Homo sapiens: one gene and its partners. The protein of the gene in region 2 interacts with the protein of the main gene of each other region in a biochemical or structural test. Each region holds a gene or a part of one and is shown on either strand. Other genes may lie near its edges.

Region 1 (3,750 bases), on a different chromosome or scaffold from region 2:
TCTCTAAGTTAGTCCACTTTTCCAATCAACTTCCTGTGTCCCCACCTACACCAGAGTCTGGGCTAGGATGTCAGGTCCTCTGGGAAGACGGTGCTGGCTGAAACGGTGGGGTGGGGATGAGCCAGACCCAGCATCCCTCTCAGGCCCTCGCTCTACCCCCACCACCTGGCTCTGGGTGAACATGGGGTTGGGCTGGGTTTGTTCTTTGGGTCAGAATTCCCTTCCTGACCACCTCCATACGGAGGTCATCTCCAACGAAAACTGAATCCAACCAAAGAAATGAGCCCCGAGGGACAACCCCACTTGCGGTTATAACATGTTTGATCTGTTTAAACATCTTCATGCTGATACATTGCAAGAACTCTGGGATCCAGTTGTTCGACTTTTGGGAAACTGCTTCGAGGAAACAATCCCACATTGTTTGGAGAAGAACTGTTACACACAGGATGTTCATTCCTCATCACAGCAAACAACTGAAAACACCTGCGTCACCCAGCACCAGGGGGCTGGTTCCATCGTGGCCATCAGCAGATGAAATGTGATGCAGTCTTTTGGAATCAACATTATAAAGTCTGTGTATTAAGGTGACAACTAATAAAATGAGCAAAAAGACAGCATATATGATCCAGTGGTCTCCCCAGGATGATATTGCACACAGGAAGAAACACTCACATGGACACAGAGTTGTGAGATGGGGTAGAATCTGGGGCGCTCTTTTCTCCTTTGCTGTCCTTCACAGACTTTCATCTTGGGTCATGCCAGCCTAGCATGGGCTCCCCGTCTGCTGCTGGGCTGCCTGCCCTCCCCAGAGCTGCAAGTTTCCTGAGGGCAGGGTCATCATACTCACCTGGGCACTGACTCCCCACCTTTGCTCCAATCTATGCACAAAGCCCAAAACCCTGCACACCATAGGTGCTAAATCAGTGCCTATTAAAGAGGCACTGCAAGCAACATGACAGCAGGAGCCATGAGCTCTCCACTGGCATCTCCAGTGGCGGAACAAGGCAAAGCACCCAGAGACGCTCCTGCTATTTTGGAATGAATACAAGAGTGGGGCCAGGGAACAAAGATGGCATCATAGAATGATTAAGAACTACGTGTGGATGGTGGCTGTGACCCAATTTGTGGGAACCATGGGGGCCCCAAGCTAGAAGTGTGTTGTGGCCCATTTCCAGCAATCCAGAGACGAACTTTAAAGCTCTGCCATCAGCGAGCTGGGGTTGAAATTCTGCCCTGGCCACTGCCGGACTGTGTGAGGCAAGTCAACACTCTCTGCCTCCACATCCAAGGTCCATCAGGAGCCAGGCCAAGGCGGTCCTGGGCATGAGGCAGCTCCAGCAGCACCTCCCCACCTCCACCGAAACATGGTTGGCTGAACAGGCCACCGGCCAGCCATCTTCCTGCCCTCTGCTCAGTCTCCCTGGACAGTGATGTCCTCTCTGAGGCTTCAGTGGCCATCCCTCCAAACTCAGACTCCCAGGGTCTTTGGCCCCAGCCCTATCCTCTCCTCTGAGCTCCAGACCCAAAACCGACTGACTGTATGATTCCTCCAATTGGGTCCTCCAATGATCCCCAGTCTCAAATTCAGCAGGTTCCCACATGATTTTCACACCCTGCCCACCGCCCTCTGGTCTCCCACTGGACACCCCACCCACCAAGGAGCCCCAGCATCATCCTAGACTCCTGCCTCCCCACTCCCTATTCTGTATCCCTCACCAAGCAGGCTAATCTGCCCCCTAACTCTTCCTCACACCCTGAACCTGTCCCTCCTTCTTACCAGCAGGATGGCTAGTCCCCTGGCCGCTCTCTACCCAGCAGCCAGGTGATCCTCCTAGAACAAGCTTGTCTAACCCATGGCCCATGGGTGCGTGAGCCCCAGGATGGCTCTGAATGTGGCCCAACACAAATTCATAAACTTTTTTGAAACATTATGAGATGTTTTTGTGTTTTAGCTCATCAGCTATCGTTAGTGTTAGTGTATTTTACGTGTGGCCCAAGATAATTTTTCTTCCATGTGGCCCAGGGAAGCCAAAAGATTGGACACCCCTGTCCTAGAGGATCTGTCTGACCCTGTCATTCCTTTCCTAACCCCCTGCCAGCTCCTCTGGCTGTTGGTGAAGAGGTCGGCATCGTCACATGGCCTACAAGTTCCTGCACATCCTGCTCTCCACCCTCCTGCCAGACTGGGCACCAGACACCCTGCCCACCCGCTCTGGTCTCCGCCCTTCACTCCAGTGACACCCTTGGGTGATATTTTTATGCGTCCACCAGGCCTAAGCTGAAATGTCCCTGCCTCTGGGGGGCCTGTCTAGACCCGCTGAGCCTGGGTCCCTTGACCTGAGCCATCATCACACCGACCAGCCCATCTGTAAAGCCGTCTGTCTGTCTGTCTCCCCTCTACAACACCAATAGCATGATGGCCAGGCCCACGTCTGGGCCTTTGCAGTGTTTCCCTGGTGACCTAGGCAAAGTGCAAACGTTTGTTGAGTGAATGAAGGAAGAAGCCTCTCGGTGGCCCCATCTCTCATCCCTGAGGCAGGGTGCTGGGGCAGATGGCAACCATCCAGGCAGCCATGGCCTGGCTCTATCCCAGCTTTGCCACTAATTTGCTGTGTGCTCTTGGGGGAGCCACTCGCCCTCTCTTGTTTCCTCATAAGGGGAGGGAGCTGGTTGGACGAGCTGGTCTCTAAGGTCTCTCAGATCCACGATTCCCCTTCTACACACCCCAGACAGGCCGCTCGCTCCCTTCTTGTCCATGAAACCCCCTTTGTCTCTGCTGTTCCTCCCACGTGAACTGTCCTTCTGCCCCTCCTCTTTGTCCCACCTACCCAGTGCCAATGTCTCCACTGTGTAAATTTCTAAATTCTCTTTTCTAGAGTTTTCTTTATAATGAACATGTATCACTTTAATTTTGAATTTTCTTTTATTATTTTGTAAGACACAGAAGTAACCTATACTCATTATAAAATAAGAAGTCAAATACAGGTGAGCAGCCCTAATCCAAAAACCTGAAATCTGAAATGCTCCAAAATCCTAAATGTTTGAGCACCAACATAACAGCACAGGCTGTAAATTCCACACCTGACTCCACATGACAGGTTGTAATCAAAACTTTGTTTCATGCACACAATTATTTAAATTATTGTATAAAATTACCTTGAGGCTATATGTATAAGATATATAAGAAAAAATCAATTTCATTTTTAGACTTGGGTTCCCATCCCCAAGCTATTTCGTTATGCATATGCAAATATTCCAAAATCCAAAAAAATTAGAAATCTGAAACACTTCTGGTCCAAAGCATGTCAGATCAGGCATACTCAACCTGTAATATAAAAGTATGACACTGGGCGTGGTGGCTCGAGCCTGTAATTCCAGCACTTTGGGAGGCTGAGATGGGTGGATCACCTGAGGTCAGGAGTTCAAGACCAGCCTGGCCAACATGTTGAAACCCCGTCTCTACTAAAAATACAAAAATTAGCCGGGCGTGGTGGTGGGCACCTGTAATCCCAGCTACTTGGGAAGCTGAGGCAGGAGAACCGCTTGAACCCAGAATACAGAGGTTGCAGTGAGCTTAGATCATGCCACTGCACTCCAACCTCCAGCCTGGGCGACAGAGTGAGACTCTGTCTCAAAAAAAAAAAGTATGTAAAATAAGAAGTAAAAATCCCTCACCCCATACCATACCCAAAGGTAACCAACCACTATAAACAGCTGGAGCTATAATCAGAACAAAAATTAACACGTATT
Region 2 (3,750 bases):
GGCCTGAGACCCAGCGTCTGGAGAGACTGTGCTCAGGCACTCTCTGGGCCTGGACAGCTGCCCTGGGCCTACCAACCTGGAACCTGCCCTGATGCAAGTCTCCCTGGACAAGACCTAGATGCCACTGTCCCTGGCTCCACATTCTGTGCCAACTCTCCTCTATTCAAATTTCCTTCCTTTGCCTCATGCTGCTACCATATCCTATACCCGGGCCTTCTTCCGCCTTCTGGAAGTTCCCATTTGCCCAGGAAGTTGTGTCCTCCTCTTAATGTCTTCTACCTGCCACTTCCCTGAGCCAGTGGTCTCACTGCTTTGCTTGCCAGTTACCAGGTCCCTGCCCCCTAGGTGCACCCTCTCCCATCACCGTCCTCCCCACCCCACTTCCCATAGAGCGCTCTCATGGGTCCTCTGTTGCTGCCCTGCGACTTCTGGCACAACCTTCATTCCTCTCCTCTCCCAGGTTTTGGTTCCTTTGTGGACAAAACGGTGCTGCCCTTTGTGAGCACAGTACCCTCCAAACTGCGCCACCCCTGCCCCACCCGGCTGGAGCGCTGCCAGTCACCATTCAGCTTTCACCATGTGCTGTCCCTGACGGGGGACGCACAAGCCTTCGAGCGGGAGGTGGGGCGCCAGAGTGTGTCCGGCAATCTGGACTCGCCTGAAGGTGGCTTCGATGCCATTCTGCAGGCTGCACTCTGCCAGGTGAGGAGGTGGGGCGGGGATCTGAGCCTGGAGGTCTGTTTGGGAACAGGACTGCCCCTTATGGTTGTGTAGTGCACAGTTCTAGGGGGTGCCATTCATACCATAGTTGCTGTAGTTTGTATATTTAGCAATTACCTGGTGGGTTGGAGTAAAATATCTTGAGGAGGAGGCATGTTTTTCGAATTCACAAGTAAGCCTCCACTAGCAGCAGCCTTCTTTAGGGGGCTGGAGAGAGCAGGGAGAAGCAAGGTACTGGAGGCAAGGGGATGGACAAGCTGACTCAGAGTGAGGCTGGCCACATTCTTGGCTCACAGAGCTGGCTGGGGTGGCTCAAGGGCCATGCCCAGGTGCATAGCCTACCACCCCCACTGTAACTCAGGAGCAGATTGGCTGGAGAAATGTGTCCCGGCTGCTGGTGTTCACTTCAGACGACACATTCCATACAGCTGGGGACGGGAAGTTGGGCGGCATTTTCATGCCCAGTGATGGGCACTGCCACTTGGACAGCAATGGCCTCTACAGTCGCAGCACAGAGTTTGTGAGTCCCTATTGTCACCCTGCCTCTCCCCATTTCAGCCACACCTCTTTCCTTCCAGGACTCCCACTCCCAGCCTTACAGTCCTCACCAGTAACCACCCTGTAGACACCCTGCCATCTTCTCCAGCAGTTCCTCCTTTCAGCTGCCGAGACAGGACACCTTTGTCACCCCATTCCCTACCTCCTTCCTATTCCATAGCAAGCCTCCAGGGCTCCTCCAGCTGGTGGAACCTTGGTTCCTGGATTCCCTGGGCTGAGGGCACCTTGCATGTTGTGGGGGAAACCTGTGGGGCTCACCTTGTCCCTGCTCCCTGTCCCAGGACTACCCTTCTGTGGGTCAGGTAGCCCAGGCCCTCTCTGCAGCAAATATCCAGCCCATCTTTGCTGTCACCAGTGCCGCACTGCCTGTCTACCAGGTGAGAGCTGTCTACATGTCAGATCCCCCAGCCCCATCCCAACCTTTCTCAATTCCCCCAAAGATACATTCTCCGTCCCCCATATGCCCTCCTTCCAGACCTCCGGGAGCCCATTTTCCTAGAGCTGTGACCCACCATTTCCCTTAACTCCCCAAAACTCAGGAGCTGAGTAAACTGATTCCTAAGTCTGCAGTTGGGGAGCTGAGTGAGGACTCCAGCAACGTGGTACAGCTCATCATGGATGCTTATAATGTGAGGGGCCAGGGGAAGGGGAGATGGTGAGGGTGGGCACTAGGGAAAGGTGGAAAGGGGCCCTTGGGTGGGGTGGCAGAACTAAGAGGAAATGGTCACTTTTTGGTCTAACATTCCACAGCTCCTACCTATAGTCTGCATGTGGCTGTCATTAACTGTTCAATCTTACATTCATAAATCTTAAAACATCTGACATGCAGACAGCATGGAGCTCTGCTCTGGGCAAGAAAGGAAAGTTTCAATCACTGAGCTTTTATTTCATGCGCCCACCATCCTAGGTGTACATACTGTTTGCTACTTCATTTAACCCTGCCAAAAGCCTTGCTTCATAACTGTTACCATCCCTATTTTACAGATGAGGAAACCCACACAAGGAGGCTAAGTGACTTGTCCAAGGTCACAAAGATAACAAACAGAAGGGCTGGCATTTGTCCCCAGTCAGTCTGTACATAAACAATGTGAGATCTGGAGCCTGCTTTCACTAAGTTTATAAATAATTCAGAGCTATTCTTCACAAGAACCATAGAATTTTACAGGTAGAAGGAACCATAAAAATTCTTAGTGGTTTAGGTCTTACCTCTGCAACTAGGCTGTAGGCTTCTTGATAACAGGGAGCATCTCCTAAACCTATGGCAAGAAAATCTGAGACAGTATCAAATTTCCCAAGATAAACTCTGTAATGAATCTGCCCTTTAGACCTGGCATGCACCCAGGTTATGTGTCCTGATGTGGGGCTTCACAAACATGGTCTCTGTACATTTACAGCACCTGGCCAGCCTGTGACCCTCAGTGGCCCTTGCTGGCAGCTGCACTGAAATGCTGTATTAGAGGCCTCTGGATCCTGTATGTTCTATGCAAGGTTCTCACGGGTCCTCCCTCCAGAAATGCCTCGACTGGGCAGAATGGAAGGAGCCCCAGGTGGCAGAGGGCAGGGTGCTGGCAGAATTGGGAACACCTGGAGAGGACATAAGGTGGGGTTGGAGTCCTTTTCTGCCTTCACGTGGTTATCCACTCGCTCTCTTCCCATAGAGCCTGTCTTCCACCGTGACCCTTGAACACTCTTCACTCCCTCCTGGGGTCCACATTTCTTACGAATCCCAGTGTGAGGGTCCTGAGAAGAGGGAGGGTAAGGCTGAGGATCGAGGACAGTGCAACCACGTCCGAATCAACCAGACGGTGAGAGCCAGCAAGCACAGGCAGAAGGCGGGCAGGGGGAGGTGGGAGTGGGAAATTAAGCAGGCAGGAAAAGATGGGTGGCAGGTACAGGGAGTGACATGAGAGCCTGAGGTAGTCCTCCATCCATCCTTCCTGGAGCAGTCTGAGTGGCTTCCTCAGGCATGTTTCTAGGAGTTGGGTGTTAACATGACCCCATCCCTTCATTTACTAAGGGGTGAGGTTCTGGATGATTGGTGAGTTTGGGGTATGTGTGTGTGCATGTGTATAACCATGGCCTGATTCCTGCCTCTTCTCAGGTGACTTTCTGGGTTTCTCTCCAAGCCACCCACTGCCTCCCAGAGCCCCATCTCCTGAGGCTCCGGGCCCTTGGCTTCTCAGAGGAGCTGATTGTGGAGTTGCACACGCTGTGTGACTGTAATTGCAGTGACACCCAGCCCCAGGCTCCCCACTGCAGTGATGGCCAGGGACACCTACAATGTGGTGTATGCAGGTGAGGGCCTCCTCTTCCCTTCAACCACCTGGCTCCCAACAACCAACCAACCCTGGCCCGTATTCCTCCGCTGCTTTCCATCCCCCCCACAGGAGTCTCCTCGACATCCCGACTCCCCACTCAGTTTCATCCCTTGAAGCTTCCCATGTATGTCCAGGCCCTCCCCCTGACTGGGGC
Region 3 (3,750 bases), on a different chromosome or scaffold from region 2:
CAATCTCGGCTCACTGCAACCTCCGCCTCCCGGGTTCAAGTGATTCACCAGCCTCAGCCTCCTGAGTAGCTGGGATTACGGGCATGTGCCACCACGCTCAGCTAATTTTTGTATTTTTGGTAGAGACAGGGTTTCACCATATTGGCCAGGATGGTCTTGATCTCTTGACCTCATGATCCGCATGCCTTGGCCTCCCAAAATGCTGGGATTACAGGCGTGAGCCACCGTGCCCGGCCTAATATTTATTTTTTAATAGAGATGGGGTTTTGCTATGTTGCCTAGGCAATTGAATGGATGAAATATAAGTTTAAAAGATTGGAAATCGAAACGACTATTACTGCAATATTTAATATGCTCTGTGTATTATGTAAAACATTCAGCTTTATAATGGCTTCTTTAAGCTCACAGGAGGTATTTTAAGGCAGTAGTTTCTGTAGTATATTTAAGATAGGATTGCGATTAAAATATGTTTAAAAGTTGGAGAGAGTATGTTTTCTATACTTGAGATGAAATTTACTGTATTTTTATTTTCATTAGGTTACCTTGTATGAATGTCATTCACAAGGAGAAATCCGGTTGTTGCAATCTTACGTGGATGCTGATGTATCCTTTCCTGGGTTTTTAATATCTTTAGTCAAAGGAATTTATTTTCAATAAGTGCACCAAAACTTTTATAAATTAATCATTTCCCTAAAGTTATTGTTCTTTCTTAACCGATTTCTTCACTATCACCCAAGAGAATCCTGTATCTAGTTTTCCTGACCCTTAGAAATCCATTGTGGTATGTGTCAACTCAGCTAGGCAAAAAGAAAAAGAAAAGAATCCATTGTGGGATGGATGTGCTGGTTGGGTGCAGATGTCTATAGAGATAGGAGCATTAGAAATCTAGTAATAGAAAATATTAGCAAAGACTGATTAAAACCTCCTTTTTCTTTGACCTTGCCTAGAATATATCATTTCATTGTAGTTATAATGATGAACTTGGCTTGTGACTGGTAGTCATTCTAAGTATTTGATCAACGAAGCCTAGGAAGAAAAAAAAAGTTTAGGAAAAATAAAATATATAAAAATAAAATAAAATAGGAAATAAAAATTGCAAAACAGGTTCATAAAGAAACAGAAAAATTTGAAAAGCCCGAGTTAGAGCGGTAAAAGCTAAGTAATAAGATATTTCTTCCAGATCCATTTGAAAAACCTAGCAAACAAGACAAGGCAAGGACATTCAGTCTTCTCTAAAAGATATTGAAATGTGACCTGTTGTTGTATTGAGACTGTCTCACAAAGAAAAAAGTGGAAAACTGAATTGTTCTTTTTTAGATATTTATAGAGGTATGGGGATAGAGCAGAGGTTAAACTACAGCGTGCAGGTTGGTCACCTGTTTTTGTAAAGTTTTGTTTTGAACACAACCATGCCCATTCATTTGTATATTTTCTGCAGTTATTTTGGTACTGCAACTACAGAGTTGAGTAGTTGTACAAGCAGCTAAAGAGTAAACAAAATTGAGTGGAGAGACTGTAATTTTGTTTGATCATTTGTTATGGATTTTAGACCTCAAATCACCATTGTATATATTTGGTTGTATAAGGAAAATTGAGAACTTTGGTGTCAAAAACTTTAGCAGTTCTTTATAAGTTTCTATTATAATTATTGACATGTTTCTTTTTCAAAAACATTATGTTTCTTAACTGTGGAATTTCTTAGGCTGATGAAAACTTTTACACTTGTGCATGGACCTATGATAGCAATACGAGCCATCCTCTGCTGGCTGTAGCTGGATCTAGAGGCATAATTAGGATAATAAATCCTATAACAATGCAGTGTATAAAGGTGGGTTTTTCTGGTTAAATTGTAGATCTGCTTCTTTTGAATCCACAACTGTAAAAACTTGTAATGTTAAATTTAAAACTAATGGTATGAATGTAACATTTCTCATTTGATTTGTACTTTTCTTACTGCTCTCTTTGGATGAGTCTTTTGAGACGTTTGTCACATTTGGGTAATGTAAATTAAGGAATAAGTGGGAAAATGTTAATATTTGTAGTGCTTTCTTTTTAAATCATTTCCCTCTTTCACCCTTGTCATGGTTTACTTTGAGAGGCTCTAAATGAACAATAAGAGGGAGTCCATTTTCCAAGACACCTAAACTGGAGGGGTGTTATCAAAGGGACCTTGTAACGAACATAAAGGTGAAGCCTAGGAAGTTGATAAGAAGACGGGTTTTTCAAATCACTTTCATCACCTGTTTTTAACTGTTGGGCTACATCACACTCTCCTGAGGATGCTTAAAACCCTACGCATATTGGAGCCTCCGCTAATCCGATCAGAATATCTGCAGGTGGAGTTTTGAGCATCTTTTTTTTTTTTTGTTCTGAGACAGATTCTGACTCCTTTGCCCGGGCTGGAATGTAGTAGCATGATTATAGCTCACTGCAGCCCGTCTCCTGGGCTCAAGCGATCCTCCTGCCTCAGCCTCTCAAGTAGCTGGGGCCAATTTTTAATTTGTGTGTGTGTGTGTGTGTGTGTGTGTGTGTGTATGAAGATAGGGTCTTGCTGCATTGCTCTGACTGGTCTTGAACTCCTGACCTCAAGCGATTCTGCCTTAGCTTTCCAAAGTGCTTGGATTAAAAACATGAGCCACCCACTGTGCCTGGGGTCTTTTTTTTTTTTTTTTTTCCTTTTCACCTCAAGTTTGTTGGGTGATTTTAGTATGCAGCCAAGGTTGAGAACCACTACTTTAAGTGAAACTATTTTTACATTCTCTAAAGATTTATGAAAAAAAATTTACTGATTTTGAGATAGGAAACTTGAAATGTTTTAAATTTATTGTAGCACTATGTTGGCCATGGAAATGCTATCAATGAGCTGAAATTCCATCCAAGAGATCCAAATCTTCTCCTGTCAGTAAGTAAAGGTAAGTGAAGCAAATGTTTCTTGAGTCTGTGCAATTTGTCAGAATTAAGATGGAGTCACTAATGTCAAGAAAACCCTGACAAATAGGAAAAACCATGAGAAGAGAGTCCACATGCTTGTATGTCTGATAATAAAAACTCACAAAAAAACACAACCACAACCTTGCACAAAGGCCATCACAGCCTTACACAGAAAATACTGGCAGTAAGTGCCTCTCCATCCTGAGACTGGCATCACCCTTGTTACTGATTTTGTGGCCAATCTTATTTCAAAACAATTATGTAATCCTTCTCATTTTTTTCTTTAAAAACCTCTGTCTTTCCTTTACGTCTCGGAGAACACACATAGTTTACTTTGGCATGTACATTCTCATTGCAGTGCATTATTTCCATATAAACATCTTTTATTTTAGAGAGCCTCTCTGTTACTTAGGTTGACAGGTCCTGTTTTATTTTAAGTCTAGTATCTGTTAGTTATTTTTCCTGATCTTCTTACTCCTCCCACCCTCTACCCTCCAGTAGGCCCCAGTGTATGGACAGATAGTGTTCTAAGGAAATAAAGCCAAATTAAAAAAAAGGTTATAACAGTACATTTTAGTAGGAAAATCCCAGGCTATGTTAGCATATCCAAATCATTTTGTCCAATCATGTAATAATAAATACTACATATGAAAATTCATATTGCTTTTTTATTTTTTAAAAAAGCTTTTGTTTTATAAAGGATTTCCTATAGAATTTCTTAAAAATGCTACGTTTTTCAGGATAAGTTATTTGAAATATTCCCATAAAGGGAAAGCATTGCATTTTGGAAATCACTACCTCTAGGAAGAGTTGATTACT

The links.
Region 1: the proteins of ITGB7 (region 2) and MAPK8IP1 form a complex in vitro, tested with the Homo sapiens proteins (one study listed by IntAct).
Region 3: the proteins of ITGB7 (region 2) and EED form a complex in vitro, tested with the Homo sapiens proteins (one study listed by BioGRID).

The regions. Positions count from the first base shown.
Region 1 is NC_000011.10:45,888,594-45,892,343, reverse strand, and holds part of MAPK8IP1 (C-Jun-amino-terminal kinase-interacting protein 1), read right to left. Parts: intron 1-3,750. UniProt on the Homo sapiens protein: The JNK-interacting protein (JIP) group of scaffold proteins selectively mediates JNK signaling by aggregating specific components of the MAPK cascade to form a functional JNK signaling module. Required for JNK activation in response to excitotoxic stress.
Region 2 is NC_000012.12:53,193,531-53,197,280, reverse strand, and holds part of ITGB7 (integrin beta-7 isoform a precursor), read left to right. Parts: intron 1-460; coding exon 461-702; intron 703-1,081; coding exon 1,082-1,240; intron 1,241-1,559; coding exon 1,560-1,655; intron 1,656-1,817; coding exon 1,818-1,907; intron 1,908-2,138; exon of another isoform or gene 2,139-2,936; coding exon 2,937-3,083; exon of another isoform or gene 3,084-3,379; coding exon 3,380-3,573; exon of another isoform or gene 3,574-3,750. UniProt on the Homo sapiens protein: Integrin ITGA4/ITGB7 (alpha-4/beta-7) (Peyer patches-specific homing receptor LPAM-1) is an adhesion molecule that mediates lymphocyte migration and homing to gut-associated lymphoid tissue (GALT).
Region 3 is NC_000011.10:86,254,685-86,258,434, forward strand, and holds part of EED (polycomb protein EED), read left to right. Parts: intron 1-537; coding exon 538-603; intron 604-1,702; coding exon 1,703-1,828; intron 1,829-2,830; coding exon 2,831-2,912; intron 2,913-3,750. UniProt on the Homo sapiens protein: Polycomb group (PcG) protein. Component of the PRC2/EED-EZH2 complex, which methylates 'Lys-9' and 'Lys-27' of histone H3, leading to transcriptional repression of the affected target gene.